Linked DNA regions of Homo sapiens. The protein of the gene in region 4 interacts with the protein of the main gene of each other region in a biochemical or structural test. Each region holds a gene or a part of one and is shown on either strand. Other genes may lie near its edges. The genes, in order: NOTCH2, CD46, NOTCH1 and JAG1.

Region 1 (7,025 bases), on a different chromosome or scaffold from region 4:
CTCAAGTTGGTCTGTTACTTGAAACACAAAGAAACTTACTTAAAACTTTACTATCATAAAAGCACAGATGAGAGAACGCACTGAAGGTAACTCTGGGTAGTATATCTCACTTTAAGTACCCAGTGAGTGACTACCACAATTTTAGCTGACAAACTGTAAAATATTTCTTCCATCCACTCCCCTATCCAAACACCAAACTACCAACTTAGGCCATATAAGTGGAACAGGAATTCTTACTCTAGAACTTCAGACTCTATTCATAATGCCTCTTTTAATGGATTTTCCACCCAGGTCCCTGATACATGCCAGGTCTTTCTCCACCCATTACAGATCAACATTTTTTTAATGTTGTCTGACCGTTGCTTGCTTTAATTCTCCAAATAACTGCAGGAACATCTTTGGCAGGTTCTGACAGATTCCGGGCCTTCCTTTCCATGCTGCCTACAGATCACTCATATTGACTTCTCACCTTCTCAGTGACAGCTACTTATACCATACCCTCTCTGTCCTCCCCAGAAAACACCTGATATATCCTGGTATAATGATATAATGCCAGAGAAAACAAAGTGCTTGCCAACCCACCACTCACCCAGGTTTCCAGTATGTTTATTATGATGGGAATGATAGCAAAGTCTAAAGCCCCTCGATTCTAAAGACATCCAGTCAATTGCTTGTAAATCTCTCAAATTTCTTTTCCTACTATAATTTCTCATGTCTGAGGAACAGCCCGGAAGCAAATTGCTTTTGGAAGTTTTCACAAAGATCTATTCAGCCCTTTTAGTGAGTTATCTAAATGTGGGGAGGGAAAGGCATTTTCAGCTGTGACGGCATGGGATGTTTTTCGTATGCTTGAGCAATTCAAAAAGGACTTTGTTTTCAAACTTGGCATGTATGAAGCCTTGGGTAAAGACCAGAGCCTTTGACAAATTTGAAGAAATGGATTTGGAAACAGTAAAAGAAAATGAGGGTAGCTAACTACCCTCTCCACCTCTGCTCTCTACATAGGTCATTTTCCTTACATCCAGAATGAGTTCTCAATAAATCACTCCTTTATATTGGCAGGTTTCCTTCTAACAAAGGCACACATTGGTTAATCTTCCACTAATACATTTTCCTTTGATCTGGAACATAGTACATCTCTGTCCACTAACCATAGTTGTGACCATAATCATTCATCTAATAAGTAAAACAGAACCATCCAAACCTGTGAGATGCTGCTGCCTGAGAAAATAATTCCACATCCCCCCAGAAAGGAGCAGCATGTCCTCACGACCAACAAGGAGTCATTCAACCAAGGTCAGAGAACAATGATGAACTCCGAGGATAGGAAATGACAGCTCTGCGTTCTACTTTAGTTACTGTGGTGTGTTGTAAGGTATCTCCTCTTCCTTAGAATCCCCCAAGATGGCTAAGGCCCCACCAGAGACAAGTGACTGAAGAAACATGTCACAATAAAGAGACTGAACTGTGAAAGAGAAAATACATTAAAGGAAGGGAAGAAGGGAAGAAGGAAGGTAGGTAGGAAGGAAGGAAGGAAGGAAGGAAGGAAGGACTGAATTTATTAATCTGGGTGGGGTGGAACTTAAAGAAAAAAAGATAATATAGCCACAAAAAAGAGGGTTTTCAATTTTAAATCATTAATTTTAATTTTTGAAGTGGTATGCCTCTATTTAACAAAACACACACAAACACACACACAAAATCATCAGATTGGCAGAGCTATTGTCTCTGACTTCTCCACTGGCTAGGGCCATTTGCCTTGAGACATTTATGTTTGTGGCTTTGGCTGTGCTTCTCAGAATCAGGACTGTTTTTTAGGTATCTGAGCATATGCCAACAGTCTGAAACATCTGTGTAAACAGATTTGAGAAACAGTGAAAACCCCATACCAAACATAAACAGAGTGGGCTTACCTGACGTGCCTGGCTGGCAGTTGCACTGGTAGCCATTGACCAGGTCAATGCAGCGACCATCGTTCAGGCAAGGGCTGCTGTAACATTCATCAATCTGGTCACTGCAGATGGCGCCCATGTACCCGGGATTGCAGATGCAGGTGTAGGAATCAATACCATCCTGACACTGACCATGGTGGCAAGGATCGGGGTCACAGTTGTCAATGTTCTCCTCACACAACACACCAGTGAAACCTTTGGAAAGAATTTTATCAAGGATTCTCAAAGACCAAGGCAGATATTCCACACCAGAACACAAGTGTAGCTACATCCATTTACTCTACACATTCGATGTGTGGTCAATTAATACTGCAGGTCTTGAGCAGTAGAAAACGACGATCTGCATTGATTTAGAAAGTATGCCTGGAGAGAGGTGCTTAAAATAAAGATTTCCAAATCAAATTTTAGAATTGAAATACCTTCGCAACTGATCAATAATTTCATTGCAGAGATGCTTTAACTGCACCTTCATTTCTTACTAGGCTTCAGGTATAACAGCTCAAAATATTTTTCCTTTATATATTTATCTTTGTATTTCTTTCTTCCCAAGTCCAATATACAGGTTAATGATTTCATGTATCTTATGTCCCCAATTCTGACTTTGGAGGTAAGAGAGCTTTATTTTACTTCTCTCAACTCCTCTGAGAGTAGTATGCATATATAGTAGTTTTAAATAAATACTGGTTGAATAAAATGAATGAACCTGTTATGAGAATTTAAAAGAAAAAGAGACAAGTAAGATTTCCTTTCTTCGAGGTGTAAATAGACAAACATTATATCTTTCCCTAAAAGACTCCAGGAGTCCTCCCCCCACTTTTAAACCTGAGCTAAAGGTTTTTAATCTCTTTGAAACTTATCCTCTACAAGAAGAATCTGGCCAGGGGAAGACAAAATCTGGATTCTCTGACAAGCATTAACTATTTGCAAAAAGAAAGAAAGTGGCTCATCTGAGTTGTCCTAAACTAAGTAGGTCTAATAATTAAAATATTAACTTTTTGTATTAATTTTCACAATTAAATTTGCTTTTCTGTGATCAGAAATAAATTATATGCATGATGCCTTTAATCTTTAAGACTCCATTCTCTAAAATTAATGTCTTGAATTACATAAATAACTTCTTTCTCAAGCAGTCAGATAATAAAGAAGTTCACTTCTAATAATTTCTAGCCTTTCTGTATAATATTTGCCTGTGTAAAAGGAAATGTGTAATAGGGAACATCTGGCTTACTGAAATCCAATCCCAAGTACAAAATGTGATTACAAACCCAGAAATGCAGAATATTTGTGCACAGATCGTTTTTGACTCTAGTTGCAGAAGTCAGCAAAGAGGACCCAAACTTTCCCAGTGAGAGCTCTCTCTCCTGTCATTTACACACTTGACTCTCAATCCTATTTTGGTGTCTTTTATGCAGAATACCCCTGCACTTGTACACATTCAGCCTTTAAATTTCTGGGCCTTCTTTCAGTCACTTGCTTCAAGAAACACAGAGCCAGGCCTCCTGCTGAGAAGCCCCAGTGAAAAATAGCTTTCAACTGGATTTCTTCTCTTTCCTAAATGAGTCAATCTAGCCAGCTGGAAACTTACTGCTGCCAAAATCTGTCCCAGAAAGACATGGATACCAAATGGAAATATCTGGGCCAGACCACTGTTGTGGTGGAGGAGGCAGGTGCTGCAGAAAAAGAGAGCAGCAAAAAATTTGTTAGAAACAGCTCTTCCTAAACACAGAGGAGCCTCTGGGAGTGGACTGGCCTGGCACAGCAGCTAGCAGAGGACAGGGACAATCACCCTATTTTGTTCAGATGGACCTACCAAGGAGATGAAAAGTGAGAAGAATCTTACCTGTGGCACACTGGCATTCATAGCCATTCGGGTGATCGATACACTTTGCCCCATTCAGACACGGAGTACTGGAACAGTCATCAATATCAATCTGGCAAACTGGCCCAGTGAAACCTCAAAAAGGGACAGTGGTAACATGAGTCAAAGGATTATCTTGTGTCTCCCTTTACCATGAGAATGATGTTAGGTTACTAGCAGGGCTTATACCAATGGGTCAATAAGCCTATGCTTTATTATTCTCCCCAACAGGTAACTGGAATAACCAGGTGACACTCAGGGAATCAGAGGCACTTGTGGTGTGTCTCTACCATTGCTTCTTCACAGACAGACTTCACTTCTAAATGAAGGATGTAGGAAGTGAAATTTATAGGTGGAACCTCAAACAAGTAACTGTAGCTTCAGAGGCAACAGAAACCTTCTCTCTGAAGATACAATGGGGTAAGATGCAATCTATGGAGGACAATTTGGCATATCTTCAAAAATAGCTTGAGGAAAAAAAAGGAGAGACAGAGAATCTTGGAAAAATTGGCATGTGTTGTCTGTTTCTGAACTCATGGGTGAAATGTCTAAAAATAACAGTCTCACAGAGGGCCTTCAAGAATATGACCCATGGGAAAAAAATAAAATCCCGAATAGCCTACAACTAAGGCTTCTGTGAGGTATGAGCATTCTGAAATATATACACAGACGAAGAGGTCATGGGCCATTCAAGAATAGACTTGGACTTTTGGCCACAAAGGACTTGTAAGATATAGTAGCTAAAACAAATTCTCTATTTCTGTACACACACACTCCTATCACCAAGCACTTACTCTAATGATTTCCTCATGCACAGCCCACACACATTCTCTCCCTGCTCTCTTCCCTGTGGTCAGTTGGCTTTGTGCTTTAAGAGAAAACAGGGCCAGGTCGTGGGCACTTACCAGGAGGACACAGGCACTGGAAACGATTGACTTTATCCACACACTGCCCATTGTTCACACAAGGGTTGCTCTGACATTCATTTATTTCTAATTCACAATGCACACCTTTGAAACCTAAACAAAACAGACCACACAAGTGGCTTAAAGAGAGAGAAAGGTGTATTCCAGACAAGGAAGCACAAATTTGCAATGATAACTACATCCTTTGCGAGTACACACATTTCTGCAGAGAAAAAAGGAACTCTGCCATGATGAGAAATAGTCACTCCAAGTGTCAAGCAGGACAGGGCATACTGTGAAATACCCATGTCACTGTGAAAAGCGGGAAGGGATTACATTAAAAGACATTGGCAAGACCTAGCATATAAACAAGGACTGCTCCACATTTTCTGTGATAAATCCATACTTTCTGGACTGTGGAAGGCCCAAAATGTCCCCACTCTATGTTCCTAAAGACAAGCTGAGCTGGAGCTGTTGTTGCCTTCAGGGTGCAGTTCAAGGTCAGCAGTGCCTTTCAAGGCTGGAGTGGCCGGCAGCCTTAATCAGGCAGAGCAGCCAATGTTAGCCATCATTTCAAGCTGGATTTGGCTGTATCCTCTCAAAATTAAAGACATGGTCTATGCAGAAGAGCTCCAGAATACAACTAAACATGTACTGCACTTTAGATAAATGGAAACTTCCTATATAATTGTGGATAAAATTTATTTATATAAATGGAATGGTATGGTATTTGTAATTACATGAAGGTATCAGGAAAACTTGCTATTTAAAGGATTCTTACAGTAAATCATTTTTGAAATTTTCTATTACATGTGGATTTTGATATAACAGGCTTGTTTAATTTGGTCTACATAGCTTGATGAATTCTAGCACTGCCTTACTCTTTGAGTAAGGAAGGTTTGCTTGTGAACCCTGACTTCCTCTAGTCCCCAGTCAGCAAAGGAAATCAAATGCTGACAGAGCTCATCAGACTGCAATAGTATACTGAATGCTCTACCAAGAGAAGTTCAGAACAGTCCCTCCTCTCTAGACCCAACATGCTGATGGGCCCATTTACCTGGCATGCACAGACATGTGAAGCCTCCAATCTTATCCAGACAGGTAGCATCATTCTGGCAGGGGTCTGAATGGCACTCATTGATGTCCATCTCACAACGAGGTCCTGCATAACCCTTCAGACACTCACAGTGGAAGGCGCCATCCGTGTTCACACATTTTCCTGCATGCTCACAAGGATTGCTATTGGCTGAAAGACACAAGTACCAATTACTGGGATCAAAGCAGTTGAGTTTCCACAAATGTGAACAATAGAAGAGCATCTGATGGTTATAGCATCAGGGCCAGGCCTTCAATAATATCATTCCCAATTTTCTATTTTTTTTTCCTTAATTTAAAAAGAAATAAAAGCGGAGTATCCTCAACTGTTATGCATTTCTGCTATTGCAGTTTCTGCCCAAACTGTCATTGAGGTAGGGCTTTATATTAAGAATCAAGTACATACGTTTCATACAGTTAATCCCCAGAATGGAATATATGGTTATGGCTATGCTGAAAGGTCACTTGTAAACACTGGCCATGTAGCAAGAGTAATCTGAGGTTTGGGTGTATGTAATTTGCTTCTACAGTAAAATGTGCTTCAGTTTAAACATTTGCTGAGCTCAACAGACACTTCACAGAACAGAAAAAGTTCTGCTTACTCACCCATGGCACATTCATCCACATCTTCTGTGCAGTCAGCCCCTTTGTAGCCTTGTGGGCAGGTGCAAATATATTGCCCATTTAGGGGGTTGGTGTCACACAGTGCCCCCTTGTGGCAAGGATTGCTGATGCATGCATCATCCAGATGACACAGGAGACCTGTCACAGGGTGGGGCAAAGGACAACTAAGAGAAAATGTCTCTCACTTGGGGAAGAGCTTTCTCTTTCACCCAGGAGGGAAAACCTCATGATCAGTTCCTCAGAATCCAACATGGAGATTTATACGCAACTTCTGCTTTGCCTGACCCTACCTTGGGGACATGCTTGGCCACCAGCAAAGCACCTAGATGCAACCCTAGACTCTGACCCTGAGCTCTCAGCTAGACCTCTCCTCCAGGACAGAGACATCTACAGGCCAGAAGATAAGAAGACGGAGACAGGAAAGTGGAGCTATCTTCCAGATAGTGTGCCAGATTTAGCAAATAAAATAGAGGATGTCCAGTTGAATTTTAGATAAACAAGAAGTAATTTTTAGTATGTCTCAAATATTCCATACATCCTATATTTTATCCGGAATCCTACTTCCCCAATATTATGCTACCTGATGATCAT
Region 2 (7,025 bases), on a different chromosome or scaffold from region 4:
GTTGAATGATTTCAATTTTCTGAAGTTTGTTAAAAGTTGTCTTATTGTCTAGAATATGGTCTACTTTGGAGAATGTTTCATGTGTACTTGGGGAGTATATACTTTTAAATCACTGTTATTCAGTGATTTCTTTCTTTAAATGGGCAAGTCCCCTACATGGTCTTCATACTTTTGGTCACTCCAGAGTGCCTTAAACATTTGGTCTTTAAAAAAAAAATTTTTTTTATCCAGAGTTTATCATTTTTATTTGTGAGACGATTAGTCTGTCACAGTTTACCACTACCATAGCCAGAACTCTTAGATTTCTTGTAATACAAGATGAAACTTTCTTTAAGCCAGTGTGTATTTTTTTTTTTTGGTTCTTTCAAACAAAAACTTCTAACTCATGCAGGTACACAGTAGTTCACACTGTATAAAATGAAATGCCAAGAACATGTAGGGGTGAGAAATAGGGAACTCTAGCTAGAACTATTTTTTGACTTGAATTGACCTGAATTAAAATAAATTAGAAACCAATTATACAGGAGGAGGAAGCACATACACCTGCTTTGTTTATCTGTAGATGAAACTATTTACAAAATGTTTCCATAGTATTTACAAATGAAGAAGGAAATAAATTGAAACACTACCTTTACACTCTGGAGCAGCACGACTCCACACTGAATTGTCACCACAATAAATCGTGCTCTCTCCAATAAGTGAAAATGGATCTGGTCCAGGTGCAGGATCACAACTATAAGTTACTGCATCAAGATACTCAAATACTTCTACTTCACTAAAGGTGTGTTTTCCATTTTTTATTTTTGGAGGTGGTGTACACAAAACCTCTTAAAAATGAAGAAAAAGAGGAAAGGAAATGTAAAAGATTAAGACAGCATTAGTAAAATTTCTGTGTCTTCAATAAATTTGTCAATATAGGGTTTCTACAAGCTGTTTGTGAATTCAATATGGATTTAAAAGAAGGTTTCTATGAGCAAATATATCATCCCAAATTCAAACCATTAATGTAGTAACTAACTTTCAGAACAAATCTCATTTTCTTAAAGTGTAAATACCTATTGATATGGTTTGGATCTGTGTCCCCACCAAATCGCATGTCAAATTGTAGTCCACAATGTTGGAGGTGGGGCCTGGTGGGAGGGGTCTGAATCATGGGGGTGGATTTCTCATGAATGGTTTAGCACCGTCCCCTTGGTGCTGTTCTCGTGATACTGAGTGCTTGGGAGATCTGGTTATTTAAAAGTGCGCAACACCTCCCGTCCTCCCCACCTTGCTCCTCCTGCTCCTGCCATGTGAGACACCTTGCTCTCCTTCTGTCTTTCCCAATGGTTGTTAAGTTTCCCGAGGCCTACCCAAACCCCCAGCAGATGCCAGCACCATGCTTCCTGTACAGCTTGTAGAAACATGAGCCAATTAAACTTCTTTTCTTTATAAATTACCCAGTCTCAGGTATTTCTTTAGAGCAATACGAAAACGGCCTAATACGCCTGTATTTATTTGGAAGGCCATGCTAAGTTCTGTTCTAGTCATCACAAGAAATGCTGACAATTAATGAGAAAATATGCTTAACTCGGTGCTAGTTAAGAAATCCTTTGCAATTTATAAATATATCCATTTTCTAAATTGGTGATTCACAATACCACCAAAATATTATTGTCTTTTTTCACTCTGATCCTAATAAGAATATAGTGATATTTTTCCAAAGGCTACATATTGTGTGATAACACAACAGGCCAAATACAATCTTGCTTTAAGCCAGATGTTGAAGAGATATGCAAAAAATGTGAACAATGCCACTATTCTCACTAATTTTATTTTGATTTGGAAAATTATTATTTTTCATAAAAATTATGTTACATATGTTAATTTGTATTGCATTTATTCTTACAAATTAATCAGGCCAGGTGGGGTGGCTCACATTTGTAATCCCAGCACTTTGGGAGGCCCACGGGGGCAGACTGCTTGAGCATGGGATTTCAAGACCAGCCTGGGCATCATGGCAAAACCCCGTCTCTTCAAAAATTACAAAAAGCCAGGCATAGTGGCACATGCCTGAAGCCCCAGCTACTGGAGAGGCTGAGGCTGCAATGAGCTGAGATTGTGCCACTGCACCCCAGCCTGGGAAATAGCCTGAGACCGTGTCTTAGGAAAAACAAACAAAACCAAAAAGAATCAATAATTATTTAAAAACCTCTCCGTTTGAATTCCAATATGATAAATACCAATAGATATAACCCACATAAAAGAAACCTCTTTGGGATCTTTGTTAATCTTAAAGTGTAAAGGGTGTAAAGGAGGCAAAAATCTTTGAGGACTACTGGTCTAAATTTAAAAAAAAAGAATTTACTTACTTTCACATATTGGGGGCTTACCGCTCCAAATTGCTACTGATCCTTTAAGTTCACAATATAGAATTTCTTCACCAATTAAGTAATAACTAAATGAGAAAAGAAAGGGTTACTGTTTTGTATAGCAATTAATAAGACACACATAATAATGAAGGAATTTTTTATATGGTTTCTTTTCTACACTACAGTAGTTTGAGGGGGTGGTTTCTTAAACAACATACTATATAACGAAAGTGCTAAATAAATCTGCAATTTAATCAAATAGAGTTTCCCCATTTGAATATATATTGGCCAAGAGCAAAGATGTCTAAATAAATCTGCTGTGCCTTTCCACCCAGCCTCTTTGCTGCCTCCTGCAATCACATTACACATTCATTTCTGTGCCTTTTCTCACACCACTTTGCACAGTAAGGACAAGGACTGTGTAGAGAGAACAGGCCCTAGAGCTGGAATGGATAGATTCAAGTCCCTGCTTCTCAACTTATCTAGTTTCTTGAGCTTGGGTAAGTCACTTAAAGTTCCTTCACTCAGCTTCCTAATTGATTAAAAGGGGATAACAGTACATGGGGTTGTTTAGGGGATTAGATAAGTTAGCATTTGGCACATAGATAGTGCTACATGAGTTTTAGCTTCTATTAATATTATTTAGAACAGAGTGTATTTCTAGGAATAGCTCACTGAGTATAAGAATACTTTCATTAAGTATACCCCTATACTCAATGAAATCTTCCCTGATTTAAATTCACAGGAATCTCTCCTCCTTCTGGACTCTTAGAGTAATTATCATGAATAATTCTACTTATTTGGTATTTCTCATTTAGTATTTTGCTTTTATTGCTCTCAGTATATATTATTTCTCAATAAGGTTAGAACTTCTTTTAGGAAGGTCACTGTCTTAAAGTTTTGGTATCCCTCGGTGTGCCTAGCAAGCAGTATGTGTCAACTGAATATTCCAATATTTCTACTTGACCAAATTTTAAAAACTGTCAGTTGCCTTACATAGTCACAGCTGATTTTTCCTCCAAGACTCACTTACTTTTTCTATATTATGGTGTGTTACTGCTATTGTTTGAATCTGGTTTGTCTCTACCAAAACTCATATTGAAATTTAATTGCCAGTGTAACAGCATTGAGAGGTGGTGGGGCCTTTAAGAAATGACTAGGTCATTAAGAGGTATAATGCCTTTCTAGAGGGTCTTCATTAATTCTTCAGGGAATGAGTTCTCATTCTTGTAGGCTTGGATTCATTACCATAAGAGCACGTTGTTATAAAGCGAGAACCCCCTCCCTTGTGCTTTGTCTTTTTTGCACATGCTAAATTTCCCTTTCACTTTCCAGCATGTTATGATGCAGCACAAAAGCCCTTGCCAGACACTACTGCCATCCCCTTGAACTCTCCAGCCTCCAGAAATATGAGCCAAATACATTTCTTTTCTTTATAAATGCCTAGCCTCAAGTATTCTGTTATAGCAGAATACTTACATTTACTCTATAAATGCACATTTATCTTAAATGTCTAGTATCTCCAATATATACAACTTCAAAACCCTACAGAACAAAGGCTATTACCGAGGGCTCAGTACCTGCTCTTGAGATGCTTCACACTGTAGCAGTCTCAAAAATAAGGTTTTTCAACTGAGAGATTTTGATCAACATGATGGTAAAGGCTAACCGCGTCAGTTTTGGTCTGATAACACTTTACAGAGTCATCTGGATACAAGTGTATCTTTAGTTGGCAATTCTATTTCTCATTTTTGTGAGCCCTACTTCAACTCTAAGAGTTGGCAGATTTAAATAGGGGACACTCAGTTGTGAAGGACAAATTCTCATGATTACTACATTCTTAATGCTTACAACAGACTTATTGTCAGAAACAGCAAGTAGTTTTGCTTTCCTTAAATATCAATTACTTTCTATTTACTATATATCTTGCCTATCTCCATAAAACATCCAAGAGTTGTTTGGCTAGAAGTATAACTTGTCACATAGAAAGCAAAATTAAGTTTACAGGAATGCTTAAGAAGAGAAGCAAAACAAAAATAAAATTACTAACACTTCCCTTATTTCCTCTAAGGAGCAACTTACCCCTCATTACAAATAAAGTGCATCTGATAACCAAACTCGTAAGTCCCATTTGCAGGGACTGCTTGGCCATTTAAAGGATCCCGTATATATGGACATGTTTCTCCTGAAAGAAAATAATTTTGATAGTTTTCAATCCAGTTATAAAACAGATCTGAATCAAAATCAAAATTCTGCAGTGCTCTTTTGAATGGGTGGGAATATAATTTTCATTATTTACTTATTATAAGGGCAAACTTAAGATTCATATTCACCCAGGCAATCTATTGCCAGGAAAATGATTTCTTGGAGATTTTGATTTCTCAAAGCTTGCAAAAATGCATTGTTATCTTGAACCTCATTTTACAAGAAGAAAATCATCATCACCGTAGTGGAATATGTACCCCAAAATGTATGCAAATCTCTAGAGCAAGCAGAAAAAAAAAAGAGGTTTGTTTACTTACTATAACAGGCGTCATCTGAGACAGGTAGCCATGTATGATTCCGATCACAAATAGTATGGGTGGCAAGAGGAGGTATATAGAAGTATCCTTTTTTACACTTATAATCTACTCGTTCACCAATCTCATAGTAGGGTTTTGGTTTACCAATGAGCTCCATAGCTTCAAATGTTGGTGGCTCCTCACAGGCATCTAGGGATAAGAGAATAGGAACATGAAGATGAAGTACTGATATCACTTTCATCAGCCATGGACTGTGGTCTGGCAGCAGGTAGTACAGAAAAAACAGAAAGGCCCTTGGCAAGATTTTAAATGACTGTTCCATGCTTTTACCTGAGTGCTCATAGCAGTGGAGGAAATGGGACTTGCATGTTTTAAGTAACATCCTATTAGCTTTTGGTTTGTTTGGGAATAAACATTCGACAATAAACTGAAGAGACAGCATTAATGTCTTTGATCTTAAAATATATATGGATGCATCTTTCCCCACATTTTTCTAAATTCATTTCAAAAGTAACTTCTCCTCTAAGAAGTCTTCTACAGTATAGAGTACTCTGCTCAGATTGTTCTTCCATAGTTTAAAACACTAACTTATAACAGCTTGTCACTTCAGGGTGTCTTCTCTTAAAAGGCAAGTTCCTGGGGGTCAAGAACCATGTTCTTCTTTTTCTACTATACTCACCTTGTGGGTGCACAAGAAATGCTGACACTGACAAACTCTATCTGCAAATAAGTATTCAAGAAATTGTCTGCTACCGTGCCTGGGAAAATCAAAACAACCCTAGTTTGGATTCATGTTGTGCTAAGTCAAACAAAAGGCTCAAGTTGCCCTAAAAGGACAGGTAATAACGTGAAAGTCTGAATTTATGATGGTGAGTGTTTACTCCTGATGAGTCTGTTGCTTTTCAGAATTACTCACCCTGTGATTTAATCCTCTTCCTTCTTTCTTGCCTCCTTTGCCCTACTCTGCCACACTGAATAGCTTGGCAGTCCAGTAGTGTCACATCTTGGTGCCTTTGCTCACCTTGCTTCCTCTGCTCTGAATACCCTTCCTCCCTGGCTGGTAGCTACAACTCCTGCTCAACTCATCTTCCTTAATCCACCCATCATCTCCTCCAGGAAGCATTTTCTGCCTCCCCCTGGGAAGCAGTGATCAGTCACCTTCCCCTGGACTCTCCCCTGCATGGATCTCTCAGGTAACTATCACATGCTTTTGTGTTTAATAGTTAACAAGGCCAACTCCATTCATCCATGTGGCCACAACACCCAGCACAATATGTCACTCAGAGTAGCTATTCAAAAAAAATTTGGTATTCAAAATCCACTGCTGTCAAACACAAAACAATGTGAAGAATATATTGTAATCAATTTCATATTGAAAATAATCATTCTACAGCACAATGGAGAAAGAAGATTAGGCCATTTCTTGTGCTGCCTATCTCCCAGTCTTCTGGTATCCTGGCAGGTGACCAGATATGGACTGCTCTCTTTGCATTGTAGTATGCCCAGTAAGGAAACTGAGACGCTACTGTGTAAGTGCTTACTGATCTTGGCTTCTTTCACTGGAAATAAGGAAAACACCTAAAATAGGCAGAAGAGACCACGCACAACAGGAGATTGCGGGTTTTGTCCAAAAAAGCAGCTCCTCTTCTGGAGGAATGAGACTGGCCTGAAATTTGATACATGTTTCCTTCAACTATCTGGAACCATTTGGCAACTACCTTTGAGAGGGCAGGTCTCCCATGCACAGCACTGTCTGCTTACGAAACCTTCTCCTTGTGAGAGTGAGTTGCTCCAAAAATTGAATGTTTATTTTAATTCACGTATTCTCTCTGCCTAGCATCGTGACTTCTCATTTTTACTTTCTCTAGGTTTCATACCTGTCTTGATTTACCCTTATGAACCTCAAACTTAACCTTGCTTTTCCTTCTCTTCATTCTTAGTTTTGTTATTTTCCATGTTGCACCCTATTCATTTCATAATTCTATGTTCCTCTATTTCAAATCGCTTTCATTATCTTCTTCAGCTTCCTATTTTGTTTCTTTTTTTGTTTGTTTGTGTGTGTATGTGTGTGTGTTTTGTTTTGTTTTGAGACAGGGTCTCTTGCTCTGTTATCCAAGCTGGAGTATGATCAGGGCTCACTGCAGCCTTGACC
Region 3 (7,025 bases), on a different chromosome or scaffold from region 4:
AGCCGAATCCAGCTTAAACTCCTGGCGGGCAACTGCTTCCTGACCTGCCCAAGACCTGGCACCCAAAATCCACCCAGGAAAAAGAGGACCCCAGAAGCATGCAGTTAGAAAATTAATGCTTCAGCAGGATGCGGAGGCTCACGCTGTCATCCTAGCACTGGGGGAGGCCGAGGTGGGCGGATCACCTGAGGTCAGGAGTTCGAGACCAGCCTGGCCAACATGGTGAAACCCCATCGCTGCTAAAAATACAAAAATTAGCCAGGTGTGGTGGCAGGCGCCTGTAGTCCCAGCTACTGGGGAGGCTGAGGCAGGAGAATTGCTTGAACCCGAGAGGTGGAGGTTGCAGGGAGCCGAGATCGTGCCACTGCACTCCAGCCTGGGTGACGGAGCGAGACTCCATCTCAAAAACAAAAAAAAAAGAAAAAAAAAAAGAAAAAGAAAATCAACGCTTTCCATGTCTCAAGAAGGTTTCAGAAAAGAGTAATTTACAGGGACAGAGTGGCCCTGCGGTATCACCCCAGGAAGGGGTTGGTGGAAGAACAGGAGGACTCCAGGACCCCCCCACGTCTACTCTGAATGGGAAACACCCCAAGGATGAAAGCTCTCACCCCCAATTCTAAGTTTCCAGAGTATCAACTGTACCCCAGCCTCGGGGCTTAGGGGAGAGAGGCAGGTGGGCCACGGGGCTAGGGAAGCCCTGGCTGCTGGCACCCTTACCAGGCCCGCGGACATTGACGTCCATGCAGTCGGCGTCAACCTCACCCTGGGGCGGTGTGGGGGCCATGGCAGACATGCGCAGGTCAGCGGCATCCAGGTGCTGCTGAGTCCACTGCCGGTGGTCTGTCTGGTCGTCCAGGTCAGGCAGAACCACGGGCTCCTCGAACTACATAGAGGGAGTGAGCAGAGCCTGTCAGGGCAGCCCGGCAGCAGGTGCCCGGGAGCCCAGGAGCCCGGGAGCCTCGCGACTCACCCGGAACTTCTTGGTCTCCAGGTCCTCGTCCCCCCACTCATTCTGGTTGTCGTCCATGAGGGCACCGTCTGAAGCGTTCTTCAGGGGCCTGGGGGGTGAGGGGTCGAGAAGTGAGGCTGAGCGAGCTCCCTAGGAAGCCCCCAGAGACCCCTGGCCCGGGCCTGGCGTGGGAGGTGGGCCCTGGGTCGGGAGGGGCAGACTCCCGGTGAGGATGCTCGGCCAGGTCCCACCTCCCACCGGGGACCCAGAAGCAGGGGCGGCGTCCGCTCACTTGAGGCCCACGGAGTCCTCGCCGAGGGGCTCCCGCCGCTTCTTCTTGCTGGCCTCAGACACTTTGAAGCCCTCAGGGAACCAGAGCTGGCCATGCTGCCGCCGGCGCTTGCGGGACAGCAGCACCCCGCAGCCCACGAAGAACAGAAGCACAAAGGCGGCCGCCGCCACGTACATGAAGTGCAGCTGCGCCGGCGGGGGCGGCTCCACGGTCTCACCTGCGGGCACGGGGGCCAGGGGCAGGTGCCCGGACATCAGGCAGCGGCTACGCAGCAGGCTGGTGGCCGGGGGGCGGCGGACTGGCTCCGCGTCCGGGCGCCTCCTCACCCACTCTCCTCCATCCCGCCCTCCAAAATAAGGTCATTTTCTACGCGATTAATCAGAATTGCAAACTATCGCTAAATTCTCTCCTGCACCAGCCGACTCTATCTGGAGACGGCTTTTACTTTTTTCTCCTTTAAGGAAGGAGGATTAGTCAACTTCAAATCGCTGCACTCGCACTGAGCTGTTAAGACAAAGGATTTAGAGGGATTTTCAAGATACAAACTTCAACACTTCACATGACACCGATCAATTCTTCTCTCTCTCTCTTTTTTTTTCTTTAAAAAAAGCCGTAATGATTTTGAAATAATACCCAACAAAGAAAATTCAGGAGGAAAGGGTGGGGAGAGAAGCAGGCACCCACTTTCCCGTGGCTGGACTCGTTCCCAGGTGGCTCCACCGGCAGCTGTGACCGCCGCAGGTGGGGGCGGAGTGCCATTCAGAAAATTCCAGAAAAGCCCTACCCCAACTCGGACGGCAACGCTCACACCCGTGGGTAGCAACTGGCACAAACAGCCAGCGTGTCTGGGGCACGGGGGGATGGCACCCCCTGCAGGCAGAGCCTGTTCCCGGGATGGGGCCACACTTACTCTGCACGGCCTCGATCTTGTAGGGGATGTTGAGGCTGCCCAGCGAGGCGAGCGCTCCCAGGAATGCGGCCACGTCGGTGGCACTCTGGAAGCACTGCGAGGAGGCCTGCACACACTGCCGGTTGTCAATCTCCAGGTAGACGATGGAGCTGGGCGGACAATCAGAGAGGGGCTGGGACCCGAGGCTTCCTCCTCCCCCGCCCACCGGCCAGGGATGCTGCCGCAGGACACTGAGGCCCATGACGCCACAGTCAGGACATGGTGAGGCAGCCTGGGGTGGTGGGAAGCCAGGTCTGACAGCAGCTACCCTGCAGGGGACTGGTGCCAGCCCCCCGACTCCGGCCAGTGCTGATCACGGCTCATCCCAGATACCCACCAACGCGCTCTCCCTGGCCCGCCCTGACACCCTCTCTGGCTCCTGCTGGTGCCACAGACACGTTTCCTCATCTCAGGACAGAGTATGTGCCAGGAGCCCAGTCCTCCCCCAGGAGCCATCCCCAGGCCCTGCAGGAAGCACAGGCGTGAGGTGGGGGTGGGTGCAGCGGTGGTGGGCTGTGTGGTGAGGCTGGCTGGGGGTGAGCTCTGCTCCCCAGGACTGGGTTCCCGTGAGCAGGATCCCATCCAGCCTGTGAGATGATGCTTCTGACCTCCAGGATTGCTCCAAGCCAGCAGAACTGACAGGCAAACCCACCAGGGTCAGGCACACGAAGGGCACAACCAACCTGGCTCCTGGGTCCAGCTGCCCCAGATCGAGTAGGCATGGGCGGGAGCCTTGTGGGGTGCCCCCTGCACTCAAGCTGCTCCTGCCTGTGTTCTCCCACCGTGGGACCCCCCACCCCCACCAGCTCCTCCTCCAACTGCAAGGCCCAGCAATGCCCCCTCCCAGGACCTCCACCTGCCTCCTCTCCAGCCCAAGCCAGGCAGACGCCATGACCAAGCGGCATTCTTGTCTGGGGTGGGGCTGTTCAGCCCTGTGGGAACCCCTGGAGAGCTGAGTGTTTTGTTTTTTACTTCTTTTAATACTTTTTTAAAAAAAACAGAGACAAGGTCTCCCTATGTTGCCCAGACTGGTCTCGAACTCCTGGGCTCAAGGGCTCCGCCTGCCTCAGCCTCCCAAAGTGCTGGGATTACAGGTGTGAGCCTCCTCGCCTGGCAGAGGGCTGAGTTTTAATCAGTGTAGTATCCAGTGCCTAAGGCACAGCTCAATCTCAAAATCACCTACTGGGCACAGGAGTGCCGCCTGTCCAGGGGAAGGCAGTGGCCCAGGAAAAGGGTGTGGCTGTGGGGTCAGGGCCCTGAGCTGGAATGCTGCCTCTACTCCTTGCCTGCGCAGGCCCTGAAGTCCCAGGTCCTCTCGGAACCTCCGTCTCTTTTACCATAAAGTGGGGAGAGTACTGCTTGCCATGGCGCCGGCCGTGAGGGGCAGGGAGGCCGTCGGGGAGGGCCCAGGAGAGTTGCGGGGATTGACCGTGGGCGCCGGGTCTCACTCACCCGCGGACGTCCATGGGGTCCAGCTCCCTCCGCCGCCGCCCACCCTCGCTGCCACCAGGGAGCAGCGAGGCCTTCACCTGGCCCAGCAGGGCGTCAGGTGCGGCCCAGCCCTCGGCGGCACGCTTGATGGGGTGCTTGCGCAGCTCCTCCTCGCGGCCGTAGTAGGGGAAGATCATCTGCTGGCCGTGTGCGTCACGCTTGAAGACCACGTTGGTGTGCAGCACGCGGCTGAGCTCCCGCAGGAAGTGGAAGGAGCTGTTGCGCAGCTGCTCCGGCGGCATCAGCACCACCACCACCAGCGTGCCGGCCGCCAGCCTCTCGGGTACATGCTCCGCACAGTCCAGCCCGTCCCACTCGCACTCCGCGCTGTTGCAGCCCTGGTCGCAGTGCCCGTCGCTGAAGTGGTCCTTGCAGTACTGGTCGTACAGGGGGCTGTGGGGGGCGGGACACGCTCAGGCCGCCTTCCTCGGGGGGCCTCGCACCCGCCGTCCGGTGCCTCCAGCCCACTGGCCAGCCGCGGGGGACGTCCCTGCACCCCCTGAGCAGAGCCTTAGAACTGCATGCTGGCCTCCGGGCCCAAGCCAGGCCACATCCAAGTTCAGGTCCTCCCTCAGCCCCATGAGCCCCGCAGCCTTACTTGCACTGGCCTTCCGCACGCTGGCAGTCAAAGCCGTCGAAGAGGCAGCCGGCTGAGTTGCACTGGCTGTCACAGTGGCCGTCACTGAAGTACTTCCAGCACTGCAGAGACTGCGTGCAGTTCTTCCAGGGGTCATTGAAGTTGAGGGAGCAGTCACCGCCGTCCCAGCCGCACGCGTGGTTGTTGCACTGCAGGCTGCAGACCTTGTTGCCCGCGTCCTCCTGGCACTCGGGCAGCTCGCACGCCTCCTCGATCAGCGGCGGGGGGATGTCGCGCCCGGCCCCACCCCCGAAGCTGTAGTCCAGGATGTGGCACAAGAGCCCGTTGAATTTGGCGGGGCACAGGCAACGGTAGAAGGGGCTCTCGGATGTGGGCTCACAGGTCCCCTGGTTGTAGCAGGGGTTGCCGCCCAGGCAGGGGCTGCTGGCCGGGAACTGGCATTCGGGGCCCGTGAAGGGGCCCAGGCACAGGCAGGTGGGGCTGCGCGGGCCGGAGATGCATGTGCCGCCGTTGAGGCAGCGCAGGCTGCCGCAGGTACGAGCGTCATTCTCACACGTGGCGCCCTCGAAGCCCTGCCCGAGAGGGAAGACAGGACGGTGTCGGGGTGGGCCACCCCCCGCCCCCCCGCCACCTCACACCCAGCCCTCGGCCAGCAGTGCCACCGCTCTCCTCTAACCTGGGAGGCGGCCTGCAACCTTGCCCCCAGCAGCAAAACCCTTTACACACATTCTACCAACAGAGAAAGATCGGGGGTGCCAGGGGGTCGGGAGATGGAGGAAGGGGTAAACTGGTGGAGTGCTGAGGACTTTAGGGCAGGGACTCTCTGCCGTGATCCTGCGAGGGTGGGCAGGCATGTCATACCTCAGCCCAAACCCACAACCACAAAGCCAAGGGCAAGCCCCAGGTACAGGAAGGGCTGCTGTTGGTAACAATGTATCACTGAAATCCAGAGTGAAATTGATGCAAGCTGCTAACCAGGGGAACTGCGTGCAGGGGACAGCCACCCCAGGGAGTCTACTTCCTGCTCCATTTTTCTATAAATCTAAAATGTCTCTAAAATCATTTATTGAAACTAAAAAAAAAAAAAAGACATCAGGGTGAGGAGGAGGATGAAGGCCGGGAGGATCACTGCCCGGTCTGCGCCCCGAGGCCCCCACGTGGACCTCTCCAGGTGTCTCCCCTGGCGGGCCCCTGCCTCCCTGCACCCCTGCACCTACCGCAGGGCACTTGCAGATGAACCCGCGGGCGGTGTTGGAGGCCACGGCGCAGGTGCCCCCATTCTTGCAGGGCTTGCCTTTGCAGCCATTGATGACGGACTCGCAGCGGCGCCCTAGGGGTAAGAGCAGGGCAGTGAGAGGCTCACCCTGCTGCCCCACACGCCCCACCCGCCTGGGCGCGGCACCCACCGGTGTGACCAGCACGGCACTCGCAGTGGAAGTCATTGACGCGCTGCACGCAGTTCTGGGTGCCACGGGCGTCGCAGGGATTGGACAGGCACTCGTTGACATCCCCCTCACAGCGCTCACCCACGAAGCCCGGCGGGCAGGTGCAGCTGTAGCCGCCCACCTGGTCCACGCAGGTGCCGTTGTTAAAGCACTTGGGGCTCCGGGACACGGGGTCAACGGGGGGATTGCAGTCGTCCACGTTGATCTCACAGTGCACACCTGCGGGGCCAGGTTTCGTCAGTGGCCCAAGCCCGCCACACCCCGGCCCTGCCGTGCCGCGTGTCCGTCCCGGAAGACGAGCGCTCAGGTCTGGGGCTGCACGGACACTCGGGAGAGGCAGGTGTCAAGGGTGCCGTGGAGACGCCCTTCCCACTGGGACCCCCGCTCTGGGCCCTTTCCCTGGGCAGCTGTGAGTCGGCCTTGGCCTCACACAGGAAAATGGGAGTTTCTGGCTGGTTCCTGGATGCCTCTGGCCGGTCCCGGGGTGCCTGCCCTGCCCCTGCCCTGGCCATGGATGGCCAACACCAGCCCTCCGTGCAGCGGCCCTTACCCTGAGTGCCCCGTGGGCAGGAGCACTTGTAGGTGTTGGGGAGGTCGAGGCAGGTGCCCCCGTTCTGGCAGGGGTGGGAGAGGCACTCGTCGATCTCCTCAGAGCAGTTCACCCCGTGGTAGCCGGCCACGCACTGTGCAGGCGACAGAACGAGGGGCCCTTCGGCTCAGCCGGCGCCAGGATGCAGTGCTCCCACACCCCACTGTGAGGGCTGACAGGGCCACATGAGCTGCCCTCAGGTCCAGCGAAGCCACGGGCCCCTCGCTCCTGTCAGACCTGGAGAGAGACCCAGCCCAACAGACCCTGGCGGGGCCTCGGTGACCGGAGTCACTGCCTGTTGGGGGTGGGTGGACCCCGTCCCATAGGATAGAGGTGAGGGCCTCAGGGTAGGTGTTGGCCAAGCCCAGACACAATCTAGGGGAAGGGAAAACCCCATCCCACTTCTCAGTATAGGTACCCTCCTTCAGGCTTTCCACAGGCCACCTCTTCCAGGCAGTCTACCCTGATTACCCCAGCCCTCCCCTAATGAGACTGAACAGTGCATGGGCCTATCAGGTTCAGTTTTCTCCACTGGGCCAGCTCCCAGCCAGGGCCTGGTGTGTGGCAACACTCGTGCCGGCCACAACCCTTACCCTAGGAGGGACCCCCACCTTGCAGGAGTAGCCGCCCAGGTAGTCCGTGCAGGTGGCCCCGTTCTGGCAGGGGCTGGGTGAGCACTCGTCCACCAGGTCCTCACAGTAGCTGCCTGTGT
Region 4 (7,025 bases):
GCAACGTATAGGACCTCTGCAAGACAAACAAACAATTTAGCAATTCAGAAACAGGGTCGACTTTCCAAAATCTCGTACATTCTTGGCCTCCCAGAATACCCCACCAAACAAAACCATAATGCCAAAATAAAAATTCTGTTGGTTGTTGCATTGAGTTCCTGGATGTTTAAATCCAAACCAACTCCCCTTCCTTTGTCAGCACTCTTCCCAGGTTGACAAATGACTCCTTTCACCTGGCAGGGACGCACTGGAGTCAACATGCATGCAGGCAGCTCAAAGTTGAGATCAGGAAATGCCACCTCACTATATGATATGAGAGTATTTAGCATATAGTTTCCCAAAACTTTCCAGACCCTGACCCTAGTGCATGAGGAAACACACACACACACACACACACACACACACACACACACAAAGAATTTATTCTAAGCTAACCTAACCAGGTATTTGTACCGAGGGGGTATTGCTAAGGTTACACTTTGGGCCCTGGTGAGGCAGTCTCTAGGGAGGCCCCCTTTTCCTTTTTAGAACCCCTTTGAAAACTCTGTCTATGTGAGACCATCCTGGCTCCCACAAGTATCGGGTAACTCTAGGAAACAGGAGGGGGTAGATGCAAAGTGACTCTGCAAGACAAAGAAGTCAACCTCACTTGGGCGGTGGAGTTGGGGGCAGATCCCAGGGAAGAAAGTACAAAGGGAGAAACAACCGCACACCCATGGGTTATATTTATTGATGAACTTATCTGTTAATAAGATCTAACATTCCAAGAATAATCAGAGTCTACTAACTAAACAAATTCCCTGGATACTGGCAAGATGCCAGCTGTTAAACTGAAGGCACCTTTTATCTTCCAAGCTTATCTCAGAATTCCACCTCCCCACCCCCAGCCAAACCTAAGCTATTAGCAAATTCCCTCCTTTTCTAAAATTTTCCTTCGTAATTTACAGTAAGGTCAGTCTCACAAAACACCAGCGTTTAAATGAAGCTTCTGCTATCTTGGCACTGAAGAAATGTACTCAAGGCAGGTGGGGTAGACAAGGAACATGAACTAGGTTATGAATCCCTGCTTTGCTGTGTCAGAAACCAAGCCATAGGAAATAGAAGCGTGTATAGATTAAATAATACCGTGCTGTGCCACCAGAAGCACACTGCTGCCAAGAGAAGAGAAAGCACCTATAAGATAAAGGAAAAAGAGAAAAAGGGAGGGTAAAAGGGAGTTTCATTCATAACTCAAGGCCAGCTTAGCGCTCTCAGAGTGACACAGCAGGTCATCTCTGAATATAAAAATATCTTGTGATAGACCCTGCCTTGGAATTCAGCCGAAATATGTTTCATACTCAAAGCAGAGTAGGATTCCATTTCGTTCACTGATAACTGTGGGAAAATGCTCAGAAAAGCAAGCAAAACCGGGCAAGCCAGGGCACATACCCAGCCCTCTCCTGTTAGTGGCCACAGGTCCAAATTCATTGCTGTTGTTACTATTTTATTAGCGAAAGTTATACCTTATTTACTGCCTCTTTAAGTTTCTTAGGACTTCCTGCAAATTACAGGACTCTTCCCTAAGAGCAGCAAGAAATTATATTTCTCTACTGATTTGAGGTAAGAGCACAGTCAAAATGAGGCCAGATGTGTGGCTGATTCTGTATAATTAAGCCCTTCATTTGCTGGTCACGTTGAGGCCCACGTCCTCCACTTCAACAGTATTGTTGTAATTAATCCTCTGATTAAATGCATTGATACCAGGAGTTTTGACAGACTTGCACAAGCGCTAAACACATAATACCCACAAACCCCACTGCAAGGGAAGGTGCCGGGACTGAGCTGGCATGGCAGTACTAACTCAGTTTAATACTCAAAGAGGAAAGCATCCTTAGGTCTTGCACAAGAACTTGGACGACCAAGCAGTCTACCAGGCTCATCCTCGCCAGAACTGGGAAAACCTCAGAAGTTGCTGACCGACATCACCCCACCTGGAGAGAAAAGAATTGCACACAGCCCTACGTGCCTGGCTCTGTGATTTTCCATGAACTGCCCTTCTTTCTCAGAGGCAGAGACAGGGTGAGGGCAGGGAGCTACAGTGACGGCAACAAAGCCTGGACTTTTTTTCCTGTCTGTTTCAGGGAGGGGATTAGGGTCTCCTGGGGCAGGAGGATTCCTCCTGCCCAGCCCTACAGAGAAAAAGGATTCCCTCCAAGGTTCCTATTAGGAGGCACTCAACCTCCCACTCCATCCCCACACTATAGATCAGCAATCAAGATAATTTAACAATGATTATTAGTTGCTAGAGAACTTTAATTTTTCCCAGGCCCACACTTGACCTCTGTACATCCCTGAACATACACCCAGGCACTGAGATCCCAGATCATGCACCCCACATCAAAGCAGGGACCAGGCCACAGAGCAGCAAATCCACTATGCCGAAGTCACATACAAGCAGCCACTGCAACTCTGACCCCCAGTAGAGGCGGAGTCCTCCATCCCAGGAGGGCTTGGAAAGGCAAGTGTTCAAACTTAAGTTTATACAGCAAAACAACAACAACAAAAGCAAATACCTGGGTTTTTCTTGATTTCAGACTACAGAACTAAGACTCTGCCGAAGAGTCACCTGGCTTTCATCTTTCCTTATGTTTTCCAGAACAGTACTGTGAAGGCCACACAGGAAGGAGGGGTAGCAAACAGATCTTTAGTCTGGATTTGCAAAGTGAGTCACTTCAGCCCCTTCCCAGCTCCAAGCCCAAGGAAATCTGGAAACCTGGCAGCTGGTTCCCATTCTGGTGTGGCATCAAAGAGGAATGGTCAGCCTTCGGAATTGCTTTTTGGAAGATTTCTGTGGAATTCTACCTAGAGGAGAGTCCTGGCATCAAAGCCCCAAGGCATCCAAGGGCCACCAGGTTCCCAGCAAGGCTGGGGCCCCTGCACCTCCTCCCGCCCTCCACACTTAGGCTGCTGTGCCAAGGTTGTGTTCTCTGCCCTGTCCCACTCCATGGCGGTTACCTTGGCACTGGGCAGAGCGGTAAGCACTTAATTGCCACATTAAGAAGGGGGGATGTAAGAAACAAAGGTAATTGTGTTGGCAGCCGGGAGCTTCCTTTTCCTGGCAACAGTGACAGCCAAACCAAGCCCTGAGAAGCGGCTGCCTCCCCTCCTGCCAAGCTGACGGACACAAATAAACCGCCATCCAAACGGCACGCGTGCGGCGTCCAAAACCCCAGGCTGCTGCGACAGGCAGGCCCGCCGGCGGCACGCACATCCTGGGAATGCCCGACGTGCCAACGCGGCCATTGTGCACAGTCAGTCGGCTCCCAGGGTTCGTCAGGGGCCCTGAGCTCTGCTGACTCAACTGTTGCTTCCTGTCGCTTGTCCTGTGTTAGCATTATTTTTGGAGAGGCCCTATTATTCTCCATAATCCTCATTTCAGTCAATTCGGCCAACTCTATTGTCCTGCCTGTGTCTGGGTGGCCAGAGTATAAAATATTCCAGTCACAAAACATATTAAGCAGAAAAGGTTGCAGGGAGTCCATGTGTGGCGCATGCACACGTACTCATGCACACAATGCGAGTGGGTTTTGGGAAAGTGAGATAAGAAAGGACAACTATCCTATAGCATCTAGGCTAAGACTTCAGGCACAGAAAGCAATCAAGTCTGTAGGGCTTGACATGTCAATAGAGTCCGATCTGGTTACAAAGGGTGATTTTCTCATCAAAGCCCACTCAAAGGCTCACCAAGGGGCCCCAAAGCTCATATCCAGATTTGTGACTCTCAATGAGACATCCCCACCCCCTTTCCCATCATTACCCTTACCTGTTTGAAAAGCATCCCACTGATAATTAAATGCACCAGTTACAAAAGGGTGGCGAGGTTAATAGATAGAATACCAAGAAGCCAGCCAAGCACAACGGTCTGGTTCACACAGAGCAAGCCTGAACAAGAAGCCTTTCTGTTTATTTACCAAAAGTGCATAAAAACTGGGTTGAGCTGGTAGAGGACTCTGCATGTTTGACTATTTATGTACTCCTTTAACTACTGGGAGCCACCTTGCGGAATTTCTTCCCAGCACACGCACTGCACCAATGGTAGATGTCACTGGCACCATAAAAAAAAAAAAAAAAAAAAAAAACAGCAGTCACAGGGCTGCTGTGGTCCATGCGGTAATCAGAAATCAGCAAAGAAGTCACAACACAGCCACCCAGTGCCATGCACCAAAGTAAAGGTGGGATTTTTCTGAACCCAGGACCCTCCTCCATTTCCACCACCATTTTAGAATCACCACTTTCCATTCATCCCAATGTATCTTCCAACAGTTGGAAGAAAAGATTAAGTTTTGAGAGATATATATATATTTAAAAGCTGAAGCCAAGAGTCACTTCTCTCAGCAGCCTAGATCCTAGGCTTGAAGGATGGGGGTAGGTGGAAGAGCAACATGCCTTACAGAAGTTTACCATGGAAGAATTTGCAGGAGTATTTGCATTTATGGATTACAACGCTAATTGTATGCACATCCAGAGATCATGCATTCTTACATTGTCACTAACCTTGAAAGCCGGACATTGGGACCAACTTCTGGCCCTTCTACAATGGGGCCAGTGGGTGATATGAATCCAGCCAAGGCCTCTGGTTCACATTCCTGTTTTCAGATCAGGAACTGTGAAGGCTCCTTGTTACCTTGACACTGTTTTTTTTTTTTTAAGTAACTTTTTTCTCCATGCTAAACTTTCCACGTCTTCTATCTAAAAGGTCCCCAAAGGCACCACTATTTGGTGTGAAGATTTTGAGCAGCACTTAGATTGCTGATTTTCTGGGAGGTTGCATGCCTGTAAGTTGCTGCTGACTCTCCTTTTAACCCACTGAACTCCCCCAAGAGCCTCCACGCCAAAGTTTCACCGTTTTCTAAAAACATCTTAAGTCCCTGTAGAATTACGGGTGTGGAACTGGTGGGTTGCAAATTCCTATAAGTACTGGAGGTTTGAATAAGTTGCTAAGAAACAAGACAACAAGGAGAAAGAAAACACAGAAGGTTACACCTGCAAGAGAAAAAAAAATTAGAAACCAAGTACCTGGAATAAAGATTCCATTTTTGGAGCAGCTATTCTGCAGATACTTAGCACAGCTCTTTCAAAGCAAGCACAGCTTCACTTTCCCCCAAGCCCAGTGTTGCAACACAGATACATCACTTCATCCCTTTGGTTTGAGGTAGACTTCTTAGGGCAAAAGGCGTTTTCTCCACATGCAGAAAGTCCCTTGCTCTGAGCACATACGTACACACATGCTCTTTCTTTGTATACATGCTGACTACACGGGCAGGATGCAAATCCTGGCTGCAGAAAGGAGGCAGGTCAAATCAGAACCCCATCCTTAAGCCCTCCATGTGCCCACACCATATCTACAGAAGCTCAGGGACTGGAAAAGACAGCAAAAGGCATAAAAGTAAGGGCCTGTCAATTACATTCTGTGATTAGCATCGTGGCAATTGGTCATTCAGGCCTGAAGCATGAAGGGGGCCAAAGCTGGCATCCCTCACACAGAAGAATCACGTTTCATTGGATTTTCCAAAAAAAAAAAAAAAAAAAAAAAAAAAAAAAAAAAAAAAAAGTTGATCTCAGCAAGTCTTTTAATAGGATCAATGGAATTTAAATATGAGGCTAATAAGCCAGATACCCCAATTTCTTCCCCTAACGTTTCTCTAGATTCATTTCACTCTGGGGCCACCGATGCAGCAATACAGCTAACTGGGGTTCTGAAGTTCCCAAAAAGCTTTTGGAGATGAGTAGTGGTAATTACACTAATGTATTTTTAATAAGCAGGCACTACTGGGATTTAGCACTAATTTTGGGAGGTACAGATTAACCGTTTCAGTGATTTATAAGTGGTAATTCCTAAATTATTTCCTGTTAAGCCCAATTACTTCCCACAATAATGGTTCTTATCACTTGGTCCCCCAATTTGAGAATCATTAATCCAGATAGTTGCTGCAAGTTAAGCCCCTTAGAGCAGCAACAGTATGAGAATTAGAAGCCAGTGGTGAAAAACTACCCCAAGACCAGAGCCGGGGCAGGGGACACCACGTGGGACATACTCAGATATGATATATGACAGGAAGGGCCACCTCTACAAAGCCTTTCACATGCACACCAGAACATGGACTGTATTTCATATCTGACCAAATCGTTTCCTCCTCGTCCTCTCTAGAACATGAACAGTTGCTTGGATAGGGGTCATAATTCCAAACAAAAAGCATGAACTACATGACCTTCTACACTGACCTACCCCTGCACCCTTTGCTGATACCCAGCGTCAGCAAATTTGGGAGGACTCATGCAAATGGTAATTGTGCCTGCTAGGGGTTGGGAGCCCAAGGTGGTTTGGAGTTTTGTTTTGTTTTTAACCATATATCCTTTTCTTGCTATCTCTTGAATTCTGTACTAAGTTCATTTATTTCCCATTCAAGGAAATCAGTTTTAAAAGACATAGTTAATTGCCAAACTAAATGAAGCTGTGCCCTCTAGTTAAATACTCGCTCAGCTACTTAAGTGTTTCAGTTACGTTTCTACTCAGCCTGGAATCATTCTTGAAAGTTACGGACTGTGCCGTTTCTCCAACCACATACAGAAAAACAAATACACCTAAACTCCAATTTCTCTTGAGAATTAAATCTTATGTTTCACAGCAGGCCTTTCTGGGGCATCAGGGTGGAGACTTGTTTATGAGTGATACATGCGTTTGTCCCAACTTCAAAAGAACCACATTTTCAGTGGTGCCCCATCGGTCTTCCCCCATTCGAGAAAAGCCGAGAGTCTATTTCATGGTTGGTGACCCGTGGGGCCTGAAACCACAGAAGAGCACCAGCAAATGCAAATCAATCGCCTCTCCTACCCTCCCACACTATTTCCGCTCGTTTTCCATTGAGGACTCTGACCAAGTGTCAAAAGCGGACAGACGCACTTTTCTAGGTCACTTTTCCTTGGCCAGCGAGGGAGCAAGCCTCCTTGTTTTCATGTTAGCCATCCCTCTGACCCTACTCTCCAAA

The links.
Region 1: the proteins of JAG1 (region 4) and NOTCH2 form a complex in vitro, tested with the Homo sapiens proteins (2 studies listed by BioGRID).
Region 2: the proteins of JAG1 (region 4) and CD46 form a complex in vitro, tested with the Homo sapiens proteins (2 studies listed by IntAct, with this or other methods).
Region 3: the proteins of JAG1 (region 4) and NOTCH1 form a complex in vitro, tested with the Homo sapiens proteins (3 studies listed by BioGRID and IntAct, with this or other methods).

Annotation. Positions count from the first base shown.
Region 1 is NC_000001.11:119,961,661-119,968,685, forward strand, and holds part of NOTCH2 (neurogenic locus notch homolog protein 2 isoform 1 preproprotein), read right to left. Parts: intron 6,573-7,025; coding exon 6,417-6,572; intron 5,962-6,416; coding exon 5,773-5,961; intron 4,830-5,772; coding exon 4,716-4,829; intron 3,907-4,715; coding exon 3,793-3,906; intron 2,148-3,792; coding exon 1,914-2,147; intron 1-1,913. UniProt on the Homo sapiens protein: Functions as a receptor for membrane-bound ligands Jagged-1 (JAG1), Jagged-2 (JAG2) and Delta-1 (DLL1) to regulate cell-fate determination.
Region 2 is NC_000001.11:207,755,051-207,762,075, reverse strand, and holds part of CD46 (membrane cofactor protein isoform 3 precursor), read right to left. Parts: intron 5,063-7,025; coding exon 4,874-5,062; intron 4,537-4,873; coding exon 4,434-4,536; intron 2,438-4,433; coding exon 2,352-2,437; intron 828-2,351; coding exon 630-827; intron 1-629. UniProt on the Homo sapiens protein: Acts as a cofactor for complement factor I, a serine protease which protects autologous cells against complement-mediated injury by cleaving C3b and C4b deposited on host tissue.
Region 3 is NC_000009.12:136,501,031-136,508,055, forward strand, and holds part of NOTCH1 (neurogenic locus notch homolog protein 1 preproprotein), read right to left. Parts: coding exon 6,925-7,025; intron 6,408-6,924; coding exon 6,275-6,407; intron 5,944-6,274; coding exon 5,686-5,943; intron 5,610-5,685; coding exon 5,497-5,609; intron 4,852-5,496; coding exon 4,280-4,851; intron 4,075-4,279; coding exon 3,643-4,074; intron 2,301-3,642; coding exon 2,152-2,300; intron 1,459-2,151; coding exon 1,242-1,458; intron 1,059-1,241; coding exon 971-1,058; intron 884-970; coding exon 718-883; intron 1-717. UniProt on the Homo sapiens protein: Functions as a receptor for membrane-bound ligands Jagged-1 (JAG1), Jagged-2 (JAG2) and Delta-1 (DLL1) to regulate cell-fate determination.
Region 4 is NC_000020.11:10,663,999-10,671,023, forward strand, and holds part of JAG1 (protein jagged-1 precursor), read right to left. Parts: intron 17-7,025; coding exon 1-16. UniProt on the Homo sapiens protein: Ligand for multiple Notch receptors and involved in the mediation of Notch signaling. May be involved in cell-fate decisions during hematopoiesis. Seems to be involved in early and late stages of mammalian cardiovascular development.